Regions from separate parts of the Homo sapiens genome. Here all the other regions are linked to region 1. Evidence: fine-mapped expression QTL. A gene starts in region 1. Each other region holds a variant in brackets. All regions are shown on one strand. Distances are between the middles of the regions.

Region 1 (8,337 bases):
TTCTGGGTGGGTGCTGTGGGCCGGATCCACACATGCGGTGTGGCAGAGCGCTGCCCTCCTGCTGGGCCCATGGGGGACATGGCCCCCTGGCCACACCCCACGCCAGGACTGAAGGCCAACCCCAGGAAACCCTGACAGTGCTTCCCAGACCCTTTCCTGGCCCAAGGCAAGGAGGATGCCTGGCACCCAGGAGGGCTATGGGCAGATGGGACCCAGAAGATGGGAGCAGGGTGGCAGTGGAGGCCTTGGCAGGGGCTTCCAGAGAGGCTAGAGCTGGAGGTTGCAGCAGGGCAGCTGCCTCCTTTCCCTGCTGTCTGGAGTGACCCCGCAGGGTCTCAAACCCAGTGCCACATGGTCCTCACACAGTCCTGCTTTGTGCTCCTGGGGTCCCTGGCCTCACTGGGGCTGGGGATGGAGCATCTGAGGAGCAGAGGGCTGGCTGGGCCGGGGGTACCATCCATGTCCAACCGGCTGGCACAGGCCCCACAGCCAGGGCTCGGCCCAGCCAAGCACTCACACTTCTCCAAGCTGACCTCTGGGGGAGCCCTCGTTGGAGCTCCATCCTGCTCCTCCCGGACTTGCTCCACACCCCACCTCCTCCTTCTCCCAACATCCGCCTGGACGGGGTGGCCTCCAACTCTTCCCCGGCCTGCAAAATGTTTTCCCTGCCTGGATCTTCAACCTGGCCTTCAACCTGCTGGCCCCTTTCTCACTCAGCTCCTGCCCCTTTCCAGCCGGCTGGAGGTCTGCGGGGCTTCTTCTCCAGGGCTCAGGGCCTCCTCTGGGCACTCGAAGGGCCAACCGCACCTGCCCTGGTGTGGCCAAGTGGCCCGTGGGGGTTGGCAGAGGCCTTTTGCCGCGTCACCACCTTCTGCCACTGGAACGGAGCCTGGGTGGCTCCTGGCCAGCAGCCTGTGACTCCCATCCCAGCTGGGCAGCCCTGGCCTGGCTCACACACCCTGAGTGGGCACCACCCTGAAGCCCTCCAGCAGATGCCCACTTTCCCTTCCCCTGGCCCAGCTCACACACCCTGAGTGGGCACCACCCTCAACTCCTCCAGCAGATGCCCACTTTCCCTTCCCTAGGCCACTTGTCACTCTGACCTGGGGCTGTCACCAACCTTGTCTATTTCCCCCAAGTTGTGGCTGGGCCCCCCCACCCCCAGGTTAGGGCCTAGACAAGTGTGAGAGCTGAGAAGCAGTCACTGCATGTGTGGCTGGATGTAACAAGTAACAACAGGGACAGGCAGAGACAGAGAGAGACGGACACAGAGAGACAGAGACAGACACAGAGACAGAGAGATACAGCGACAGAGAAAGAAAAGACAGAAAGACAGAGACAGAGATAGAAAGAGACAGAGAGACAAAAAGACACAGAGACAGATACAGTGACAGAGAAAGACAGAGACAGAAAGATAGAGACAGAGAGACGGGCAGAAAGACACAGTGACAGAGAGATACAGCGACGGAGAAAGAGACAGAGAGAGAGGCAGAGGAAGACAGGGCAGAACGTGAGGGCTGGCAGAGGGTCTCTGTCCTCTGTGCCCCAGGCCCCAGCTCCAGGTGTGCTTGGAGCTCAGGCTGGCCTGGGTTGTAGAACGGGGAGGGGTCAGCCTAGGAGTCCAGTGCTTCTGCTCGGAAGAACGGGCACCTCCCTGCACTCCTGTGCAGACTGTCCCAAAGGCACCAGCATATCCCTTGCATGCAGCTTGTGGAGGTGGCAGGGTCAGTCATGAGCCTGGCTCTGGGCTCAGGGGGTCACCCCTGGGGTCCTCTCTGGGGTTACTGTCCGGGTTAGCTGTTGGGTTATCCACCCAGTTAGGGATGGAGAGAGAAAGCACCAGGGCCGAGAAGTGACCTCTTTCTTGGACCCGAACATCTCACCCTTGCTGTCCCCTCCCAGGTCCTGAGGAGACTAGAGGAGCAGATGGAGCAGAGCAGGCTGGGGCTCAGGCCGGGCCCCCAGGCATGTGTCCTGCCTCCTGTCCCTGGGCCCAACGTTCTGAGCCCACTTGGCTCAGATCCCGGGAGAGAGGAAGGGACGGTGCTGGGGGTGCCCATGGCTTCCAGCCAGGGAGGCTGAAGAGACCCCAATCCTAGGGCATGGGTCCCCCTCTGGGAGGTTGCCTGTGAACCCCCAGGCCCACGGGACCCTCATGGCTGTCTCAGGGAGCCCCCATGGGCTTGGCCCTGGTGCCTTCACCCTTCCCTCTCCCCCAGCGCTCCCTTCCTCTGCGAAGGGTCCCCTGCCAAGTCAGCAGAAGAGTGGGGACGGGGGCAGAGGCGCTGGGGCCAAGGCTGGGAGTCCAGGCCTCTGAGTCCTCCTGAGCTCAGGCTAAACACGGGGCACCGGAGGGGATGGGGCTGAGGGCGGGGGAGGGGCCGCATCTTCCCTGCGCCAGGGGAGTCCCCAGGACTCAGCAGGGAGGGGACAGTGACAAGTTAGTGCGGCGGCCACCGGCAGCGGCCCCCCTCCCCCCTCCCCACCCCCACCCCGCCAGGAGCACAGGGCAGCTCTAGGGTCGCGGTGCGCCCCATCCCTCCCGCCGCCTGGCTCCCGACACTGCACAGCGCGAACCGCAGGGCCGACCTTGCGGCGACCCCGCTCTCCCGCAGTGCCGCGTCCGCTGCAGAGGAAATCCCGGGGGCCAGGGGAGGGAGCGGTGGGGTCTCTGGCCTTCGTCCCGGTAAAGGAAACAGCGACTCCGTTACACCGAAAGTGAGCCCGGGCCGGCCTGCGGGTCTCTGGCTGCGAGGGGCTTGCGTGGGTTTTCAGGGGTCTGGGGGCCCCCTTCTCCCGCCCTGCGATACGGGGAGGTCGGGGCAGAGGGGTCGGGGCGGCGGGCGGCGCTCAGGGACACGGTCACCGGAGAATGGGGGCGGCAGCGACTCCCAACCCCTGGCCCCTCCGCTCGGGAGGCAGCGACTTCTCCGCCCGAGGGTTTTGCACCCACCGGCCCCGCGCGGACCCTGTAGGGAGCAGGCCCGCACCGTCGGGCTGGGGGCGGGGGGGCAGAGCCGGGGGCGCCCAGATCAGGGGCGGGCGGGGGTCGCAGGCGCCCGCCGGGGGAAGGTCGAGCCCGGGCCGGGTTGGAGGGAGGCGGGGGCGCGTCACTCGGGTCCACCCCCGCCCCCGCCCCCGGGTCCACCCCCGCCCCCGCCCCGGGTCCACCCCCCGCCCCCGCCCCCGCCCCCCGCCCCCGCCCCCGGGTCCACCCCCGCCCCCGCCCCGGGTCCACCCCCCGCCCCCGCCCCGGGTCCGCCCCCCGCCCCCGCCCCCCGCCCCCGCCCCCGGGTCCACCCCCCGCCCCCGCCCCGGGTCCACCCCCCGCCCCCCGCCCCCGGGTCCGCCTCCGCCCCCGCCCCCGGGTCCACCCCCGCCCCCGCCCGGCGCCCGCGGCCCCGCCCCTCGGCGCTCCCCTCCCCGTGCTCGTCACGCTCGGACGCGGGCGGGGGGCGGGGAGCGCCTGCGAGTGACGCGCCCTCCTCGCGGTGCCCTTCAGCCGCCGCCGCAGCTCACCGGGCGCCACATGGACCCAGCCGGCCCGAGCGCGCCCCGCCGCTGACCGCCCGCGCCCCGGGAAGGTAACCGCGCCCCGAGCGCAGCGCGCGCCCGGCCTCCGCTCCCCGGGTCTCCCCTCCCGGCCCCGGCGTCTCCTCCCCGGCCCCCGCTTCTCCCCGCTTCTCCCGCCGGCCCCGGTTTCTCCTTCCCGGCCCCCCTTCTCCCCGCGGCCCCGGCTTCGCCCAGCTCCTCCCCCCGGCCTCCGCTCCCCGGGTCTCTCCTCCCCGGCTCCGGCTTCTCCCCCCGGCTCCGGCCTCTCCCTCCGGCCCCCGTTTCTCCCCCCGACCCCGGCTTCTCCCCGCAGCCCCCGTTTCTCTCCCGGGCTCCGCGCGCGCGGGGTCCGGGGCGGGCGCTGTCCACTGCCGCGGTGCTGAAGCGGCCCCCGCGGTCCCGGCCCGCGCCCGGCCTCCTCCTCGCTTCTTCCTGTCTCGAGGCTCCCCCTCTCCTCCCTCGCCCTCTTTCTTTCCTCTCCTGGCGCGCTCCCGCCTGAGGGCCGCTCGCCCGCCCGCAAAGCCGAGGGGTGCGGGTGCGGCGGGGCCGGAGCCCTGCGGGTCTGCGGGGCCCGGCCGTGCCCTCCTTCCCCGCGCCGCGGGAGCCAGGGGAGAAGTTTGGAGGAGAATCGGCGCTGCGGCAAAGCCTCCGAGGGGCGCTCCCCGCCCGCCGCCCTCCCAGTCCCCGCGCGAGTCTCCTTCCTCTGCGGAGGGCGAGGGGTGAACCGTCAAACAGTGTCTCTCCAGGGACCTGGGGTTCCCCGATAGGAGAGACCCCGCAAAACCGGGGGGCTCACTGCGGCTGCTGTGATTTCAGAAAGCGGCTTCCCAAGAGGGGACCAGAGCGCCCCACCCCACCCCATGCACGCCCCCGGGGCGGGGGTGCTCTGTCCCCGTCCCCACGTGTTTCCTGAAGGCTGAGCCCCCTGAAGTTTCTCCCCAACCCCGATCTCTTCTACGCGGGCCATGTGGGGGGCACACTGACTGCAGTGCCGTCAGGGATAGGGTCACCCAAGCCTCCCTGGTCAGAAGCCACAGGAGCCCGCCCTGAAGGGTACCCGCTCAAAGACCCACCCCCAACCCTTCTCCACGGCCCTGGGCTCGGGACCACCGCGGAGGCGCCGCTCCAGACACTGAGCTGCAGAGCGGAGCAGTCACCTTCAAACGCCCCCTGGGCCCCGCCCCTGCTTCCGCAGCCTGGCGCCAGGCGCCTCTGAGCGATGCCCCCTAAGCCATCAGCAGCCCTCCCTGCAGAGGCTTCAGACACCCCAGGAGCTGGGGAGACCATTTTCAGGTCCTCTGGGGTCCTGGTTTGGGTGTGGGGACAGAAGCCCCTCACGAAGGACTTCCCAGGCAGCCGCTCCAGGTGGGGGAGGGTCCAGCCCACAAGGTATTGCGGGTAAGGAATGATGGTCTCTGGGGAAGGCCAGGCAGGGGCCTGCTTAGGGTGACCTGTGACCACTTCACTCTCCCCCAGGAAGAACACTCGCTCCCGGCCATACTTGCGTGTGAGTTCTGACCCCTGGAGGAGCCACTGTGGAAGCAGAGCAATCGCCATGGAGTTTGTGATGAAGCAGGCTCTAGGAGGTAGGAAGCGGGAGGTGGGGTGGGGAGGGGCTGAGGGGACATGGAGAGACCACCACAGCAGCTGCTCCTCATCTGGCCCACCGCAGCAGCGCCCCTGCAGCCACACGGCCACCCACGCAGCCCTGCACAGGAGCCTGGGGCAGAGGAGCAAGGACCGTGCCCAGCAGCGCCCCCAGCCCGGCCCTTTTCGAGGCCCCGAGCCAGAACTGGTGTTCCTGGCGGGACAGGGGCTGCCCTGTAAGCTCACTCTGCCCCACTGCTGTGGTCGGGGCAGAGCCCATGGACCATGCTGATGCACGTCCTGGGGGAGGGTGCACACTCTGGCGTAGGCTTTACAGGGCCAATTCTAACTGGCCAGGCTGGGCAGCCCCCAAGGGGGCTTCCTTCCAGATGAGGAGAGCCAAGCGGTGGGAGAGCAGGATGCAGGTGGCAGCCTCAGGGACAGGCGTGGGGACAGAGCTGGCCTGTGCATCTGGCGAGGACCCTGTGGGTTTCACTTGGGTGAGGCAGCGCCATCCTCAGGGACCAGGGCTTGCTGGTTACGGGAGCGAAGGAAAAGGCCCGAAACAGCTTGTGTGTCTCGACTGCCTCCCAGGCGGGACGTGCAGCCTTTTTTGTGTGTACTGGGGTGGGGCCAGGCCCCCTTCCAACCTGCTGTCTGCTATTTGAAAGGAACCTCGTCCCCACTTGACCCAAGGCTGTCATTGTGGCCAGAGACCATGTCAAGAGCAGTGGCTGGGTTCCTAGACCAGGAGGTGGGCAGGGCCTGGGCCATGCTGGTACAGACGTGTCCCGGCAGAGCTGATGGGTCAACTCAGGCCTCGGGGCTGTCGTGGCGAGTCTCAGTTTTGCCCAGAGCCGTCCATCCTGTGTTCCCCCAGCACCAGTGCCCAGAACTCCTGTGAGGGGAACCTGTGGCCGGTGCCCGATTCTACCACTAGAGACGTCTTGCTTGGGTGGCCTCCACGGGGGAGCACCCTCACCTGATGCCATTCACACCTTGGAGTGAGTCAGGCCTCCTGGGAGCATTTCTGCAGTGGGGGAGCTGGCCGGGTTCGAGGGGCCAGGGACAAGGGTGTACAGAGGGCAGGCGCCGCTTCCCCCAGGGCAGGAGCTGCCTGCCTGGCTGTCTCCCGGAGGGTGGCTGTGCTTCCACTCAACACAAATTAAATGAAAAGATATTGAGCCTGTCCTGGGGCCACATCCCTGAGATTTCGTGGTCAAGGGTAAGAGTCAGGTTGAGTCTAATTATAATGGCTGCGTCACCGGGCTGTGATTCAGGGACAAGCCTGCATCTGCGCTGGGAGGGACGCACGTTCCACCCAGGGAGTCCCAGGCTGTTACGGATAATTAATTAGTTGGCTAATTCAGGCCCTGAGGTGGGCTTGTAAGAAACTGAAATATCTTATTTGGCTGTCTACATGACTGAAATTAGCTGGGTAATTACCAGCCTGAATTCCCTTTTTGTTTCATGGCAGCCCAAAGTTTCTCCAGCAGCAGCAACCGGGCAGGCGTCGCTCAGCGTGGTGGAGCTGAGCGGGGGCAGCCAGCAGACCCTGGGGGGGCTCCACGCTGAGTGCTTCCCAGAGCACCCCACATTGGCTTTGCAGAGCACGTTGAGGCTCGGAGCCAGAGCTGCTGAGGGCGGGAGCTGGTGGGGGGCTTCCAGTCGAGACCTTGTTTTCTGCCTCTGCGCCTCTGTCCCTCACCCGGCGAGCCTCATTGTTGCTGTCTCAGGATGCGTGTGAGTGAGACAGAGCAAGACAGAGATGGGAAATGGGGGAACCTCCAGACAGCACGACAGAGCTTGGCAGAGACCCCAAGAGAACTATTGAGAAACAGACCAAGCCCCGGACACAAAGAAGCTGGCAGGAGAGGGAGCAGGAGGCACCCAGGAAGCCGTTCAAAGAAAGGCGAACCCAGAAACAGGGTCGGGGAGGGGGAGCTGGAGAAAGAAAATGACAGCCCAGAAACAGACAGAGAAAAAGACAAGAATGTGTTATTCAGCACGCACAGGGACAGACAGGTGAAAACAGAGACGGCACGTCAGAGACAGAGGCAGAGGGGAGAGAGAGAAAGAGGGAGAGACGGAGACAGAGATAGAGGGAGACACAGAGACAGAGGGAGACAGAGACAGGGAGAAACAGAGACAGGGAGAGATGGGAGCAGAGGGAGAGACAGAGGGATACAGAGAGACAGACAGACAAAGGAAGAGGGCAGAGAGAGGCAGAGGGAGAGGTGGAGGCAGAAGGAGAGAGAGAGACAGAGAGAGTTAGAGAGATAGAGATGGAGACAGAGACAGAGGGAGAGACAGAGATGGGGAGAGACGGAGAATCAGAAACAGAGGGAGAGACAGTGGTGAGAGGGAGAGACAGAGACAGAGGGAGAGACAGAGACAGAGGGAGAGACAGTGGGGAGAGAGACGCATTAGAAATGAACTGCTAAGAGGAGTCAGGGCCAGGAGCGCAGGCAGCATGGCACATGCACACGTGCACGCCCGTCAGAGGGTGCAGCAGAGAGGAGGAAGAGGTGAGGACCTGCCCAGGGCTCTGGGCAGGGGGACAGGCCTGGTTAAATCAAGACCATTCGGGGGCTGTCCGCGGCAGGCTGGGCCGCAGGTGTGAGTCTTGCTGAGGAGTGAGTGGCCCAGGGCCTGCTCATCTGACCCAACGCTGGGTCTCAAGGAGGGGCCCCTGTTGGGGCCACCAAGGGAAGGGAGCATGGTGGCTGCCGGGGTGATCGCTCGTGGGGGAGCGGGAGGCTCCTCTGCAGCAAAAGTGGCCTTGAACTGGGGCCGGGCCTCCCCCCACAACACGTGGGTCCGGATCCAGGGTCCTCAAGGGAGTAATTTAAAGAAACTGGTTTCCTCAGGCCAGAAAGTTGCAAACACGGCCTGGGAGCTCTGTGGACAGCGTGGAGGAACGTGGCACGTGTGGGTGCCGTGGTCACTGCAGACCCTCATGGGGCTAAATGTGGCAGAAGCGAGCAGCCACCCGCTCTCCCATCCTCCGCCTTGATGTGACACACGCCCTGTTTAAACACGCTCAGGTCCTCGGGAATGTGTGGGGCAGGCGGGCCGGGGCTTCAGGTGGGACACGGCTTGGAGGATGCATGTGCGGAGAGGCTGGGGTGCAGAGTGGGAGGCAGCCGGACACTCAGGAGAGCCTCTGACTGCCCCAGCGACAGAGCCCAAGGCAGG
Region 2 (8,000 bases), 70 kb after region 1:
GACCCGGAGTCCGGAAGGAGAACAACTCGGGAGAGGGGCCGCGCGGGGAGAAAGACCCGGAGTCCGGAAGGAGAACAACTCGGGAGAGGGGCCGCGCGGGGAGAAAGACCCGGAGTCCGGAGCGAGAAGAGCTCGGGAGAGGGGCCGCGCGGGGAGAAAGACCCGGAGTCCGGAAGGAGAACAACTCGGGAGAGGGGCCGCGCGGGGAGAAAGACCCGGAGTCCGGAAGGAGAAGAACTCGGGAGAGGGGCCGCGCGGGGAGAAAGACCCGGAGTCCGGAGCAAGAAGAGCTCGGGAGAGGGGCCGCGCGGGGAGAAAGACCCGGAGTCCGGAGCAAGAAGAGCTCGGGAGAGGGGCCGCGAGGGGAGAAAGACCCGGAGTCCGGAAGGAGAAGAACTCGGGAGAGGGGCCGCGCGGGGAGAAAGACCTGGAGTCCGGAAGGAGAAGAACTCGGGAGAGGGGCCGCGCGGGGAGAAAGAACTGGAGTCGGGATGGAGAAGAACTCGGGGGAGGGGCCGTGCGGGGAAAGACCCGGAGTCTGGAGGGAGAACTCGGGAGAGGGGCCGCGTGGGGAGAAAGACCCAGAGTCCGGAGCGAGAAGAGCTCGGGAGAGGGGCCGCACGGGAAGAAAGACCCGGAGTCCGGAAGGAGAAGAACTCGGGAGAGGGGCCGCGCGGGGAGAAAGACCCGGAGTCCGGAAGGAGAAGAACTCCGGAGAGGGGCCTCGAGGGGAGAAAGACCTGGAGTCCGGAGCGAGAAGAACTCGGGAGAGGGGCCGCGCGGGGAGAAAGACCTGGAGTTTGGCGGAAGAAGTGAGAAGCAGGGAGAAAGGGGGTGCCCGGTGAGAGCCGCGGTGGGGGTGCTTGTGCAGGGAGGGGCACAGACTTACAGTGACTTTGGACTTTTTTTTTTTTTTTTTTTTTTTTTTTGAGACAGAGTCTCCCTCTGTAGCCAGGCTGGATGCCGTGGCACGATCTCGGCTCACTGCAACCTCCGCCTCCTGGGTTCAAGCGATTCCGCTGCCTCAGCCTCCCGAGTAGCTGGGACTACAGGCGCGCACCATCATGCCCGGCTAATTTTTTTGTATTTTAGTAGAGACGGGGTTTCACCAAGTTGGCCAGAATGGTCTTGATCTCCTGACCTCGTGATCTGCCCACCTCGGCTTCCCAAAGTGCTAGGATTACAGGCGTGAGCCACCGCGCCGGGCCAACTTTGGATTTCTAAAAATGTAAATAGTTTATACATTTTGTAACCACTAGTATAACAGAAGTAGAGCTTATACCTTGCAAACCAGAGGAAGAAAGAAAGAGATTAAAGAAAGTTACTAATTCACTAGACAACAGGGAGGAAGGAAGCATTAGGAAAAAACTGACGAAAAGAGCAAAATAAAAAAATAAAGCAGGAACCAACTCACATCCTCCATGGAAAATCGTGGAATGTGTAAGGTAACGTGCCAGCTAAAAAAGTTTGATTTTTTTAAAAAACCTAGCTCTACGTTGTAAACAGTGTCACATTTAAGACATTTTAAGAACAGAAATATCACACAAGTATTCACCAACAGAAAGCTGGCATAGCTAGATTAGTATGTCATGGGACTTTAAGAAATAGAGCTTAATGAGGAAGAAGCCCCCCAAAGACGAGAAACGTTTCTATACGGGAACACAGCTGGTGACAAACGCACGCCAACAGAATGGCCATGGTGGGCTTCACGTCTCTATAAGCAGCGGACGCACCCTGCCCTCAACAGGCAGCCGCCGTCTCCGACTCAGGGAACAGGTGTGCCAGCCACGCAGGCACAGGTCTGAGGCAGCGGGGTCTGCAGTGCATGGGGCCCGCAGGGCAGCAGGAAGGGCTGCACAGATGAACGCGGGCCTGCATGCACCTGCGGGAAAACGCAGACACACATGGGCGGGGGTGGGAGTGGGGGGGATTGTGGAAGGAAAACAAGAAGAAAATATGTTTACGTTTGCTCAGATTTGCATACATACAGGAGGTGATCACAGTGGTTCTCTATAGGTCACTACAGACAGCGGCAGAGATGAGAACAAAATTAAACCTTTTCAATAATACTAACCTCAGGACTGAACGAATTACCTATTTAAATACACTAAGTTACAAGCATGCTTCTAATTTTTAGGCTTTATTATGGCACAGTTTACACACACCTCTTTTATGTATATAATGCAATAATTTTCCGTAAATTCACAGACTTTCTCGATCATCGCCATGGCAGTCTCAGATGGTTTCCATCACCTCAGAGCCCCCGGCAGGCCCCTCTGCGATCTAACCCTGCTGGGGGAGCGGGGTGGGGAGTGAGTGTTTAATGGGGGCAGAGCTTCAGTTTGGGAAGATAAAAAGGCTCTGGAGATGATGGTGGTGGTGGTGGCTGTGTAACACTGGGTCTGTACCCAAGGCCACTGAACCACACACCTGAAAATGGTTAAAATGGCATATTTTATGTGCATGTAACACAATTTAGAAAGCTGGTTAAAAAAAACATGAAAATTCTAGAATTATTTTAATAAGAACCAAATTATGAAGCTGGAAACTAAAGGAATGTTCAACTCTAGAGTTTAGAAAAGAGCCGGGTGCAGTGGCTTACACCTGTAATCCCAGCACTTTGGGAGGCTGAGGCGGGTGGATCATTTGAGGTCAGGAGTTCGAGGCCAGACGGGCCAACATAGTGAAACCCCGTCTGTAATAAAAATACAAAAATTAGCTGGGCATGGTGGTGCGTGCCTGTAATCCCAGCTACTCAGGAGGCGGAGGTGGGAGACTCACTTCAACCAGGGAGGTAGAGGTTGCAGTGAGCCGAGATTGCACCCCCACACTCCAGCCTGGGCGACAGAGTATAAGACTACATCTCAAAAAAAAAAAAGCCAAGTGCGGCGGTGGCTCACGTCTGTAATCCCAGCATTTTGGGAGGCTGAGGCGGGTGAATCACCTGAGGTTAAGAGTTCAAGACCAGCCTGATCAACATGGAGAAACCCCGTCTCTACTAAAAATACAAAAAATTAGCTGGGTATGGTGGCATGTGCCTATAATCCCAGCTACTCTGTAAGGCTGAGACAGAAGAATCGCTTGAACCCGGGAGGTGGAGGTTGCGGTGAGCCAAGATCAGGCCTTGCACTCCAGCCTGGGCAAGAGGGAAACTCCATCTCCAAAAAAAAAAAAAAAAAAAAAAAAAAAAGGACAATTCTGAAGAAGAAAAATGAGGAGGGGTATGTACTCTCCCAGAAGACCACAACTTAATGGTAAAATAAATCATTGCAATTCAGTAAGTTCCTTGTTGTTTTGGCACAATGGGAGACAAGAGACCAGCGGAACAGAGCAGAGAGCCCAGGGGGACCTGAGAGTGTGGAAACTTGGCAAAGTTGAACTCCACCTTGTCCATTCTACACACAAGGTCAACTGCAGGGGCTTACAACCCAACTAAAAAGCAAACCTTTAAAATATTTTACAAGACAATGTAAGAGAATGTATTTATGACCTTAGAATGGGGAAACATTTTTAAGATTCAGAAGAAAATACCGATACATTTAATTATGTCAAATTTTAAAACTGTGGATGATGATAGGTCGAAGAAAGCCGACAGCCGCAGAAGGAAAGACGATCCCTGCAGTGAGCGTGGGGCGGCGAGGGAGGAGGTAGCCCTGCAGCTCACATAAGGAAAAGTCAGTCTTCCCAGGACAGAGATGGGCAAAGAACAAGTAAGCAACTCACACGCAGAGGAGCCCAGAGACGTGCGATGAGTCGCTGGACACCCCACACACAGGAGACTGGAATCAGAAATAACACAGATACCGTGGAACACACCTGCCCAGGGGGACAAGTGCAATGTCTTAGAAGAGTGATGGGCTGGTCACCACCTAAAAGTCTCCAGTATTAGATGGGAAATTAAGTGTAAAAAAGTCACAGCGTAACAACACGTGCCACGCACACAACGCCGTGTGCTCTGCGACACCAC[G/A]CGGGCCTGTGTGCACACAGCAGTCACCATCAAGCGGGTACGTTACACACCTCGAAATGCAACTCTGATTGTAAAGAGGGCACTGCAGAAAGACCTGTCGCTGTCTATGGCTACACATCGGCCTGCCTGGGAACACTGAGCTCCTTGTCCACCTGGAAGTGAAAAAGAGCCCAAGATCTGCCATCTGCATCTGGATCACCAGCGAATCCTGCAGGCTCCCTCCCTTTTAAATATGCCCCAAACCCAGTGCTGCACCCGCACCGCCACCTGCCTGGGCCTCTGGCTCAGACGCCTGCCTGGTCTCCGCATGGCCACCCTGGCCGTGCAGGCAGCTCACTGCAGAGCAGCTGCGCTAAGTGGCAACCCTCTGGGGATAAAGCCACGCCAGGCTGCATCCCACAGCACACCCCGATCTCACATCCCAACTGCCTCATCTCCCTCCTCTGGGTGAACAGCAAGTTCTCGCCACAGGCCCCCAAGGTCCCCAACCTCACCTCCAGCCTTACCCGTTCACTCTGCCCCGGACTCACCACCCACGGCACGTGGGGCAGCCTGGCACCAGGTCCCAGCTCACTACCTCCTGCCTCACCTCTACAGTCCAGGAGAGGCTCTTTCTACCCTCCGCCCCTTCTACCTCCAGGGGCTCTGGCCTGGATGGGTGGGCTCTCCGCTCCCCACCAGCCAACCCTCACCACGCCGGCTGCGAGGCCCTTGCAGGCAGAGCCCACTTCCAGCAGGCGTGCAGCAGGAGCAGGTGACCGGCTCTCGGGTGTGAAGTCCCAAGAGCACAGCGCGTGCCCGAGGGTGCGGACAGGAGCCAGTGGGCCAGGGAGGCACAACTCGGAGGAGTGAAAACAAACCACATTTCCAGCTCCAGACACAAGAGCCATTGGAGCCTCTGGAGGGCGGCAGGGACCCCACACCAGAACCCCCAGCCTGCTCAGGGTATAGGAGCCATTTCCCCTGTTTCTGGTGCTGGGACATCACACCCACCAAGTCAACAGGCCCGGTAAGGGTTTCCTAACTCTGCACGAGCGAAGATGAGCAGAGACCACACCAGCCCTGCAGTCCCACTGGGTCTGTGGGTGCCAGGACCACCAAAGACGGAGGCGACTCCTGCCAGGACCCAGAACGCCCCTGAAGTCCACTGGGCAGCTGCTCGCTCCAAGGGAAGCTGAATGTAGGGTTCGTAGAAGGTCAGAGTCTCGCTCTTGTTACCCAGGCTGGAGTGCAGTGCCTCGATCTCAGCTCACTGCAAGTTCAAGCGATTCTCATGCCTCAGCCTCCGAGTAGCTGGGATTACAGGCACCCACCACCATGCCCGGCTAATTTTTTGTATTTTAGTAGAGACGGGGTTTCACCTTGTTGCCCAGGCTGGTCTCGCACTCCTGAGCTTAGGCAATCTGCCCGCCTCAGCCTCCCAAAGTACTGGGATTACAGGCGTGAGCCACCGTGCCTGGTCCAGTCTTCTTTTTTTTTTTTTTGAGACCGGACTCTCGCTCTGTCGCCCAGGCTGGAGTGCAGTGGCGTGATCTCGGCTCACTGCAAGCTCTGCCTCCCGGGTTTACGCCATTATCCTGCCTCAGCCTCCGAGTACAGGTGCCCACGACCACGCCCAGCTAATTTTTTGTATTTTTAGTAGAGATGGGGTTTCACTGTGCTAGCCAGGATGGTCTTGATCTCCTGACCTTGTGATCCGCCTGCCTCGGCCTCCCAATATGCTGGGATTACGGGCGTGAGCCACCGCACCCGGCCAAGAGTCTTCTTAAACATTAAGTTCTAGGCCAGGTACAGTGGCTCACACCTGTGGTCCCTACTCGGGAGGCTGAGTTGGGAGAAGCACTTGAGCCCAAGAGGTCGAGGCTGCAGGGAGCTGAGATTGCACCACTATACTCCAGCCTAGGCAAGAAAGTAAGATCCTGTCTCAGAAAAATAAAAAAGCTCTAAAGTTCTGTTCTAACTTCCTTGCCATTTGCTCCGGGGCTTGTCAGCTCTGGGAGAGAAGGTGCCCATGCCCTCTCCTGGGCCACCTGGCAGCTCAGGTGTGTGAGCCATCAGCACCCAGAGGGGCCTCCAGTGAGGGCCGGGATCTGTCTCCCACTATCCAGGTAATGGAGCTAATCTCAAACACAAACCTTTGTGGTTCGACAGAGGACAAAGCCTACTGAAGTGAGAGAAGAGTTTCATCAGGGACGTGTTCAGAAGAGCCCTGGACAGACGGGCACCAGGAGGGCACTGGCAATCCCGAGGCTCTGAAAACGAAGATGGGCGGAGGCCGAGTGTTTGGATCTGACAGGGGCCTGAAGGCGGCGGGAATCTCTGGGGTTGCCCTGGCGGGGTCACAGCCACGCGCAGGCCCCTCCCGTCTGCCCAGCCTCAGTCTGGTGGGAAGACCCCGGGGGCCTGGAACCGGAGGAGGCTGCACACACAGGGGTCGAAGTCCATGTAGAGCCCCTGTATCCCCAAGACTGCATGGCCCCCCACCCCCGAGTCCCAGCGGACACTCAGGACCCCAGCTCAGGGCAGCAGGCCCGTCCCCCACCTCACTCCTTATCCACAAACCCCACCCTTGCCCGCCCGGTCCCCGGAGGCCTCAGGATGCCCACGCAAAGCCAGGCTCTGGAAGCAGCAGCTGGGGGAAAAGAGCGGAACAGCTGTGGCCGTGCATCCATGAAACCCGCCGGCTGCTCCCAAAGAAGTCAGGCTCCAGAAAGGAGAGTTCTGGAATTAAACAGACCGATGGCTTATACTTAAAAAAAGATGAGAGCAAAAAACAGCTGTGAAGCAAATGAGTCACCTGAGGCTAACCAAGAGGCTTCTGGCTGTGAAAGGAATGGGGTCACACAGAGAAGGTGGCAGATGCAGGGACTGCGGGAGGCAGAACTGAGAGGAGAAAGAACGACCAGGGACCTCAGGAGGGAACAGCAAGGGCAGTGGAAGAGGCGGCTTCGCCAGTTTCCAAACTCCCAAGGTCAAGTGTGGGAAACGCCATTCACCTGTGCAGGGGGCACCATCTTCCAGGAGGATCCCCATCCCCTCCCTCGGAAAACAGAAAGAAAGGCCCCGTCAAGTATTTTTGGTTTAGAAGACATCGTTGTGAGTAAATAAACCCGACACGCTTTTGCGTTGCTCAGCGATGACTAAACTTGCCTCTCTCAGGAAGATTCAGAGGAGCCACCAGTCCCAGGAGGCCTGTGCCTTGAGGCTGAGTGCCCACCAGTGGGGGTGGCAGCGAGGGGGCCTGCGCCCGTCAGATGATGGAGAAGAGGTCGGCTGTGAAGCCAGCGCGGCCGGCTGATGCCACCCTGAGCCTCGGCTGCTCTGAGTTGGCTGCTGAACAAACCTAGAGCTGGAGCCCAGCCAGGGGTGGGAGGGCCAGAGCCTCCAGGCACAGGCACAGCATCCACAGCTTCATGCCCTTTGGAGGGGCCACCGGGGGAGGGCACAAGGCTGAGAGCAGAAACATGGGCCTGGGTGGCAGGTGCTTCCCTCATATGTTTTTTTTTTTTTAATGCTTAGTATTAAAAGCACAGAATTTAATCAGTTCATCCGAGTGACTGAGGAGGGCTTAAGAGTTAAGAGAAGAAACGACTGTCTCTGGTGTGAGGGGGACAACACACAGCCCGTGACCGGCAGGAGCTCAGGGGCCACCGCACTGGGCTCAGAAGTGACGTGCGGACGTGGCGAAGCACAAATCCAAACACACCAGGAAGACACCAGAAACGGCCACAAAACCCATGCAACCTCCCGTTAAGCCTAAATAACTATAACGTCGCATCAAAACTTCAGTAAGATGAAGAAGCGATTCCTAGAATAAAATTAGTGTGAAATAAAATTTTAAAATTACCCAAAACAATCTGGAACAAACCCTCGGATGACTTCCCAAGTTTTGGAAGACGGAGATCAGGAACTCATCACGAAGTTATAGACGCGGATAATCCCACAAACGGACACGGAATCCAAGTTTAAGGGCAGCCACAAGAAGAACAGAAAGAGAATGCAAAATTCCCAAACCATTAGAGCAGAGAAAGAA
Region 3 (8,168 bases), 40 kb after region 1:
CAGGCGTGGCCACCTGTTGGGGTGGGGGAACCCTGCCTTCAGGCGTGGCCACCTGTTGGGGTAGGGGAACCCTGCCTTCAGGCGTGGCCACCTGTTGGGGTGGGGGAACCCTGCCCTCAGGCGTGGCCACCTGATCAGAACACCTGCTGCCTCCAGCCTCCTCTGGGCCGTGGCACCCCCCGGCATCTTGGGGGTTGGTTAGAGAAGAGACGCTGAGCTGCCCTGTCCAAGGCCTCTGTGCAGATGGGGACTGGGTCCTTTTGGAGTGTCCAGCCCCCTAGGCAGTTCCCAGAGGAGCAGCGCGCCTGCACCTCCTGTCAGGCAGCCATCTGGACAGGCCCGGGCCCAGGGAGCAGGAGGGAGACTGCCCCGCTGTGCTCCGCGCACTGACCCGCCCTTGTCCTGCATAAGCTTCCAGCCACCCATGTTGGGCAGCCCACACCTGGGCCTTCCTGCACGGGCCTTCTGAGGGCCCACTAGGCTCCCTCAATACATTGCATCCCCCTACCCCCCGCAGCTCCCACAGCGGCTAGGAGGTGTCCACCTGGTTGCTGAATGCTGGCTGTTTGGTCCTATCATTCCTATTGTTGGTTCTCAGCATTGATTAGCACCCACTGCCCTTTTTTCTCACGAATACCGTGTTTTCAGGGTTCAGGGTCTCACCTCAGACGTGTCAGGGCCTCCTGGGCGCCCCCAGCAGCCACTCCCATCCTCAGGTGTTACTTCCTGGAGAGCTGCTGCCCAGCATCACGGTGGGCCTGGGGCTGGGTGTGCCTGGGCGTTTGTCTCTGGAGCAGACGCCTCAGAACTGGGTCTCAGCCAGACCACGTGGAAGCCAGGCTCTGGTGTGCAGCCCAGCCCCGGAGCCTGTTTTCCCGGCAGAGTGACCCTGGCCCTCAGGCCAAGTCCGGCGTGACCTCAGCCTCAGAATGACCTGGAGCCTCACTGCAGCAACTGGCACTTCAGGCCAAGCTCCGAGTGTCCCACAACCTGGTGGCAGGGCCTGGGGTCTCCTTCCTGGGCCCAGAAGGAAGGATCCCACACCGTTTGCAGACAGGGTCCCACAAGCCCCAAGGGTCACTCCCCTGACCTGGGAGGTTCCTTTGCTCACACAACTCATGTTCCGCCGTTACAGGCATGCTCCTCTGAGCACACACATGTTCCTGAGTGCTTTTGCTGTGGGCAGCACAGCCTCCTGGGCTGGATACACATGTTGCCGCCACATGCACAGACCCCCACACCCCTGGCTGGAGGGAGGCTCTCTGGCCGGACCTAGCTTCCAGTGGCATCGCTCTCCCCAGCACACCCCTGGCCCCACAGGACGAAGAGCACATGCTCCCTCCACTTCCGTGCCTGGAGCTGCTGCCCTTCCCGCTGTGGATGGCTAGGACGAGAACCAATCTGCTCTTGCTGCCCCACAGGGTCAGGGCTTTGTTCTGGGCCTGCAGGGCCCTCTGGGTGTCGCCCCTGTTGTGCGGAGAACGTTCCTACCCTGTGCTCTTCGTTTCACTGAGGAGACCCCTGGAGTCCCGGCTCTGTCAAGAGTGCGCAGGGGCTGCTGAGGACTAGGGCGAGCCCACGGCCCCTCTCTCCTCAGTGGCCAGGTGGTGGTCTGGCCACAGGCGGCTGGGAACGTGGCGCCCTCCTTTCCATCTCACTGAAGGTGGCCCTGGCCCCCCACACCCAGAGCCACCTGCAGCCCTAGGGGAGGGGAGAGGTGCCGAGACTGCCCTCGGTGGGGTTGGGGAGCACACAGGCAGCCCCCCCTCCATTTGGGAGGAAGGAGGGGCCTCCTTGGAGATCCAGGGGGTGCCCAGCACCAGGAGCAGAACCAACTGCTTCTATGGGGAGGGGCTGCTGAGACAGGAGCAGGAGATGGCAGGGGAGGGGCTCCTCCTGGGCAGAAAGGCCCCTCCCTGTGGCTGGTGATCCCGCGGTGTGCTCCTCCGTCCTGTAGAGTGCTGGTGCCCACTCCCCTCCTAAGTTTTCTCCTGGACGCAGCTGCTGACGCCTTCACTACTCCAGAGCACCTGTAATCTCAGATCCAGGACCTTGGACCTGGCCCGGGGGTCCTGTTCAGGGGATGGAAGTCCAGCTCCGTACAACACCAGGCCCCCAATCCTTCCAGGCCAGCCCAACCCCACTGGTTCCCACCTTCCTGGGCAGCAGGAGGCTGTTCCGTAGTTCCGTGGCCTGACCATGACCACAGGCTTCCTGGGCTGGTGGCTCACGGGAGGGCTGGAGGAGTGTGGCGTGGGGAGGCGTATTGATCTAGAAACCAAAACCCCGGGGCCTGACAAAAACTTAGAGGCCTGGAGGGCAGAAGAACAAAATCCCACACTCCCTCTGGAGGCTCTGGGGGAGGGCCCTTCCCTGCCCCTTCCTGCGTCTGGCGGCCCCGAATCCCTGGTGTTTCTTGACCACTCGCGACCTCCTCCGCTTTCGTATGCCCGCCCCCATCCGGGTGTCTGTCCTTTCTGTCTCTTACAAGGACACTCTCACTGGACTTGAGGCCCCTCAAATCCAGGATGGCCTCGTCCCCATCCTTACCATTATGAGATCAACAAAGACCTGTTTCCGAATGAGATCACCTTTGAAGCTCCAGGCAATATGAATTTGAGGGGGACAATATTCAGCTACTACGGAGGGCAGACGCACTCACGGGAGATGAGAAACGCGGGTGGGCAGGGGGTCGGTGAGGCCCAGGCATACTGGCTGAGGGCACGACTAGGCGGGATTCCAGGACACCCAGTGCCTGGAAGTGACCGCAGCCCAGGACCCTCTGCCGGCTGCCCACGGAGCTGCAGCGGCCTGCCAGGGAGTGGCCCTGCTGGGGCCGCGGCCGCATCCAGGCAGCCTTGGCCAGGCCCGGGAGTGTGAATGCAGGTCGTGGACCAGGCACTGGGCAGGAGGGTCAGCTGCGGGTTGACTGTTTCTCCCCACCTCTGCCACGCAGCATCCTGCCCACCCCTCCCTGCCCCGGGCCGGAGGCTTCCTGGAAGGCAGGATGCCAGGGGCTGGGCTGGGTTTGGAGCCAGAGGTGGGGCCACAGCCCTCTCTCCTCTCAAGGAAGATGGGAGCCTCCCCCTCCCTGCTCCCCCCCATGTCAGCTCCTGGCCCCCATTCTCCGTGGGGGCTTCCCATTCCTCCAGGGACCCCCCGGGGTGGGGTCTCTTCTCCTTCTGGGGTCCTTGTGTGCCTGGTGGGGTAGGGGGCCGCACCCACGCCTTCGGGGGTTCCTGGGCCAGTCCCTGGCGCAGGGAGGCTGCGGCCCGCCCGGGAGCCGCCGGGACCCCCGCCCTGACCCCCGCCTCCCCCGCAGTACGGCATCAAGAAGAAGGAGGAGCGCGAGGCCGAGGCCCAGGCCGCCATGGAGGCCAACTCCGAGGGGAGCTTGACGCGGCCCAAGAAGGCCATCCCGCCGGGCTGCGGGGACGAGGTGGAGGAGGAGGACGAGAGCATCCTGGACACCGTCATCAAGTACCTGCCCGGGCCGCTGCAGGACATGCTCAAGAAGTAGCCGCGCGCGGGACAGCGGCCCCGCGGAGCCCCCGCCCCTCCCCCTACAGATCCTCCGCGGAGGCCCCTGAGGGACGAGCAGAGCGCAGCCCCCACGCCGATATAAGCCATAGCCCCAGGCCCGCCCTGCCCGCGCCCGCCGCCTCCCTCACCCGGCAAGGGGCGCGCGCCCCCAGGACCCCCCCAGTCCGCCCCGTGCTCCTCTGCCCGCGGGTGGCTGGAGCCCCATCGCCTGGGACGCCCCTTTCTCTTGCTGTTTACCGCCCACCCAGCAGCGCCCGAGGCCAGGGCCGCCGAAGGGCAGCCCCGCGACCACCCCTGTGCGCGCGTTCGCGGCGGTGGGCGCCTGTCGGGCCCGCACTCAGGAGCACAGCCATAGCAGACGGGGGGCTGCGGGCGGGGCGAGGGCGGCGGGGCCTGGGTCCCCCTCCTGCACGCGGACTCCGGGGTTCGGATCGCTCCGCCGTGAGTATTTGCGTCCGCACGCGGCCGCTCTCCGCCCCCCGGCCTGGCCCCCTCGCGCCCCTGTCCATCCGTCTCTGTCCGCGTCCTTTCCTCTCCTCTCTGGAAGGTTTTGCTTCTTACGAACGCCACGGCCGTGTTCACTTCTAAACTAAAGGAAACAAAGCAATAGGTTTGGGGGACGCCCAGCCCCCACCCCCGTCACCCCGCTCTTCCC[A/G]AGTCCTCGCCCCCCGCCCGGCCTCCTAGCCTCTCCGCCCACGCGGCTGCTGCTTCTCCCTGGGGAGGACCCCTGCCCTCGGCCATTGAACACTGCACCCTCCACAGGAGCCGCAGAGGCCCGAGGCACCGGACGCTGGAGACCCTGCGCCCCTGCCCAGCACCTCCTCCGTGGGCAGCTCCTCGGGTGGGGCCTGCGGGGTTCCCTGCGCGCAGCTGGCGCGTGTGTGGCCTAATCCACCTGGTGGCCCTGCGGGGCGGCATCCGAGCCCCTGTTTCTCCTCCATTCATGTTTAATTTGCATCACAATTTGTTGAATCTCAGGTAAATGAGGTCTTTGCATTTAATGAGTTTTATCTTGACAGGCGCCGCCTCGCCCCCGGGCCCTTTCGTCCACATCAAAAATGCATCAAGTCTCCACGTGTTTCGGGCCAGGGCGTGGCTTGGCATTGACCTTCATGACCTTACATAGCTTTAGAGAAGCCATAACGTTAGACTGCAATACTAACGACCGACGCCCCTCCGGGCAGAGACCACCGCGCCCCTCTGCGCCCCAGCGACGCGGCCCGCGGGGACGTCGCTGTCCGTCCTGCTCGCCCTGTGCCCTCTCACTGACTTCTCCCGGGTCGTGTCTTTTAAAAACTCCTGTTTTCACACCTTACAAAGCCAGCTCTGAGCAGACAGGGCGTCCTCTCGTAGAACCTGCGCACCCCGTTCCCAGCGCATGGCGCCCCGGGCCGCGAGCTTAGCTTAGACCGTGGTGTCCTCTGTCCGTCTGTCCTGCGCCTGCGCCTCCTCCTGCATGTCGGGGCCCCTGCGTGTGTTCTCTCCGGATGGAATCACAGCCAATAAACACCAGTGATTTCACACCGTGTGGCCATTCCTTCCAGAGGTCCATTTCGCCAGCCGGAGGACCGGGGCTTTCCCCCGCGCATGTTCTCTCCACGGCGGCTGCAGGGCCTCCCACCATTCTCACTCAGCTCCATCCAGTCAGACCCATTTTCCCTAGGCCGTCCAGCCAGCGCAACCTCCATCTAAACACAAACCTGCGCCTTCAGGGTCTCCCGCCCCCCAGGGTGGTTCTTCCACCCGCAAAGCATCTGCCCTCTGCTCTCCCTCCCACCTAGGACCCCCGACCACAGGCCTGTCCCTCTCCTCAGCTCCACCGGGCCCAGGGCCCCAGGTCACCCTGTGCTGCCCTTACCTCGGCCCACCCAGGAATTCCTGCCCCCCAGCACCCCCGTGGGACTGTCCCTCCTCCTGAGTCCTGGACCCGGATCCCTGCAGGGAAATGTCTGCCAACCTGGGCTGAGGCCAGAAGAGGTTCCTGACCCCAACCCAGAGAACAGCCCCTCTGCCTGGTTGCTGGCGGTCCCGCCCACACTCAATCCGCTGGATGCGCAGCCCACGCCTAGCTGCTGCCTGCCACTTGCTTCCCCAGAAAGTCCTTGTTTGACCTCCAAGTTTGGAAGCTGTTAAAAGATGATTCTGGCCAGGTGCGGTGGTTCAGGCCAGGTGCGGTGGTTCAGGCCGGGCGCGGTGGCTCACGCCTGTCATCCCAGCACTTTGGGAGGACGAGGTGAGCGGATCACGAGGTCAGGAGATGGAGACTATTCTGGCTAACAAGGTGAAACCCCATTAATACTAAAACTACAAAAAAAAAAAAAAAAAAGCTGGGTGAGGTGGCAAGCAACTGTAGTCCTAGCTACTCGGGAGGCTGAGGCAGGAGAATCGCCTTGAACCTGGGAGTCAGAGGTTGCAGTGAGCCGAGATGACACCACTGCACTCCAGCCTGGGCGACAGAGCGAGACTCCCTCTCAAAAAAAAAAAAAGAAAAAAGAAAAGAAAAGATGGTCCCGTGACACTTGTTACAGCTGAGTGAGGAAGGCTTTATTCAGGACCAGCACTACAGGTACAGGGACCATGCAACAGGGCTTGCCATGGGTGCCAAGGAGCAGGGTGGGCTCAGTGGATGGAAAATGACTGAGGAACATCAGGGGTTGGGGGATTCTGATGAAACCCATCTAACTGGATTCTAGCTGGAGACAGGCAGGGCAATCAGACAGACCCATAGGGTGGTGAAGCATGAGGACCCCAATCAGATCTCCAGGATGAAGGTTTGTTGCTAAACTGACTTAGCCAGATTCTTTGCTAAAACTGCATTTTACAAGGAAGTGGGCCAATGGGCCTACCAGAAGATTCAGGAAGTTAACTAAAGTTTGACCACACAAAAAATCTTTGTCAGGAGCCCTCTCTAGGGAGCAGCATGTCTGGGTCTCCTGTAACCTTCCTGATGCTGCTGGCTGGGAATGCCCCAGGGAGCTGCCCAGTCCCAGGGCAGGAGGGCCCCATGTGCCCTGACCCCAGGCCGGGCCCTCCTGGATGCCAGGTGGGAGCTGGGAGGGAACGTGCTCTCCTCCAAGCCCAGGGAAGGGTGTATCCAGCTCCTCCTCCTGCTGCCTCTGGGGAAGTGTGCACCCCAGGCACCACCAAATTGCCCAGGGTGATCTCTCCTCTGCCAGCTGGCCCCCCTTCCTCCTGGAACAGAAACTCAGTGTCTTTGCACCCACCCCTGTGTCCGTGGCTGCTGCCAGCTGCCCCTCAACAGGGCACCCCAACATCCAGCCACTGCTCAGCCTCCATCCTCCCCCAGCCTCCCATTTCCCATCCACAGCCTGGTCTGGACCCCCTTGCAAGCCTAAGCAGCGACTTGGACGTGCCAGGTCACGACCCAGGCAGCTTTCCCTTGGAGTCTTTTTTTTTTGAGACAGAGTCTCTCTCTGTCCCCCAGGATGGAGTGCAGTGGTGCGATCTCGGCTCACTGCAAGCTCCGCTCCCAAGTTCACACCATTCTCCTGCCTCAGCCTCCCGAGTAGCTGGGACTACAGGCACCCGCCACCACGCCCGGCTAATTTTTTGTATTTTTAGTAGAGACGGGGTTTCACCGTGTTAGCCAGGATGGTCTGGATCTCCTGACCTGGTGATCCGCCCGCCTCGGCCTTCCGAAGTGCTGGGATTTCAGGCGTGAGCCACCGCACCCGGCTCCCTTGGAGTCTAGACGAGCCCTTCCTACAGCAATGAATGCTGGGTCAGACCTGAGCTTCTCCGGGATCCAGCTCTCATCTCAGGTGACGGGGTCTGAGGCCTCCTGGGAATGGCACTCCTCCCCAGATGTTTACTGAGCCCCTGTGATATGCGCTGCTCTGTTCTAGGGGCTGGGAATACTAGTCCCTCCCTCCTGGAACTGGTTTTCCTAGTGATGGAGGACAGATGATAAACATGGAAGTGGCGGTGTTTGCCCTGGAGGAAAATCAAGCAGGACAGGGAGCAGAGAGCAATGGTTAGGGTTACTATTTCATGAGTGGTCAGGGGGCCTCTCTGTCAGAGTGACGTGCACAGACCCGGAGGGAGGCGCGTGTCCCGTGGGAGAGCATTCTGGGCAGAGAACAGCCATTCGAGAGCCAGGAGGCAGCGCTGCCTGGGTGCCACCAGCGTGGCCCTGGCCCCATGCACTGGCTGGGCACCACCCTGCCCCCGGAGTCTCCTCCTTCTGAACGTTTGACTGTATCTTGAACACAGCGGGGCCGGCTTTCAAGCTCCAGACACGGCCTCCTCCCCAGGCCAGGAAGCCCTGTCAGGCAGCAGATCCGGCCCCCTCAGCAGATCGGCCCCTCCAGAAGACCCGCCCCTCACAGCAGATCCGGCCTTCCCAGCAGACCCGCCCCCCGAGTAGATCCGCCCCTCCAGGATATCCATCTCCCCAGCAGATCCGTCCTCTCCAGCAGAACCGCCCCCAGCGGAGCCGCTCGGGCGGGGCCTCCGGGCCTGGGGAAGGGAGCGGGGACCGGGCCGTGGAAGGACCGCGCCCGCCCCTGGCCAGCCTGAGCCAATCAGCGCATGCTAGGTGGGCCGACATGATTGGCTCCTAGAGGCTCACGTGTGGAGGCCTGACCAATCAGAGCCCGAGAGAC

The links. PIP is the estimated chance that this variant, and not a neighbour inherited with it, causes the effect.
Region 2: its variant is fine-mapped to the expression of CPLX1 in whole blood (INTERVAL, PIP above 0.99).
Region 3: its variant is fine-mapped to the expression of CPLX1 in lung (TOPMed, PIP 0.94).

The regions. Positions count from the first base shown.
Region 1 is chr4:821,293-829,629 of GRCh38, reverse strand. CPLX1 (complexin 1) reads left to right here and starts at 3,501. Exons shown (of 4, transcript NM_006651.4): 1 at 3,501-3,584; 2 at 5,029-5,138. The coding sequence starts at 5,108. RefSeq lists a silencer at 3,482-3,531.
Region 2 is chr4:751,095-759,094 of GRCh38, reverse strand. All of the region lies in intron 8 of PCGF3 (polycomb group ring finger 3), which reads right to left. It overlaps LOC124900163 (chloride intracellular channel protein 6-like), which reads left to right. Exons shown (of 2, transcript XM_047416474.1): 2 at 1-8,000. The coding sequence ends at 931. Among named protein-coding and RNA genes, the nearest start is that of PCGF3-AS1, 27 kb to the left of the region's middle. The variant G/A (reference allele first, on the strand shown) is at 3,968.
Region 3 is chr4:781,853-790,020 of GRCh38, reverse strand. It overlaps CPLX1 (complexin 1), which reads left to right. Exons shown (of 4, transcript NM_006651.4): 4 at 3,323-5,064. The coding sequence ends at 3,520. LOC105374339 (a long non-coding RNA gene) reads right to left here and starts at 2,247. Exons shown (of 4, transcript XR_925032.4): 1 at 2,155-2,247; 2 at 664-2,058. RefSeq lists enhancers at 59-558, 1,065-1,564, 1,565-2,066, 4,039-4,910, 6,905-7,622 and 1 more and a silencer at 7,884-8,168. The variant A/G (reference allele first, on the strand shown) is at 4,199.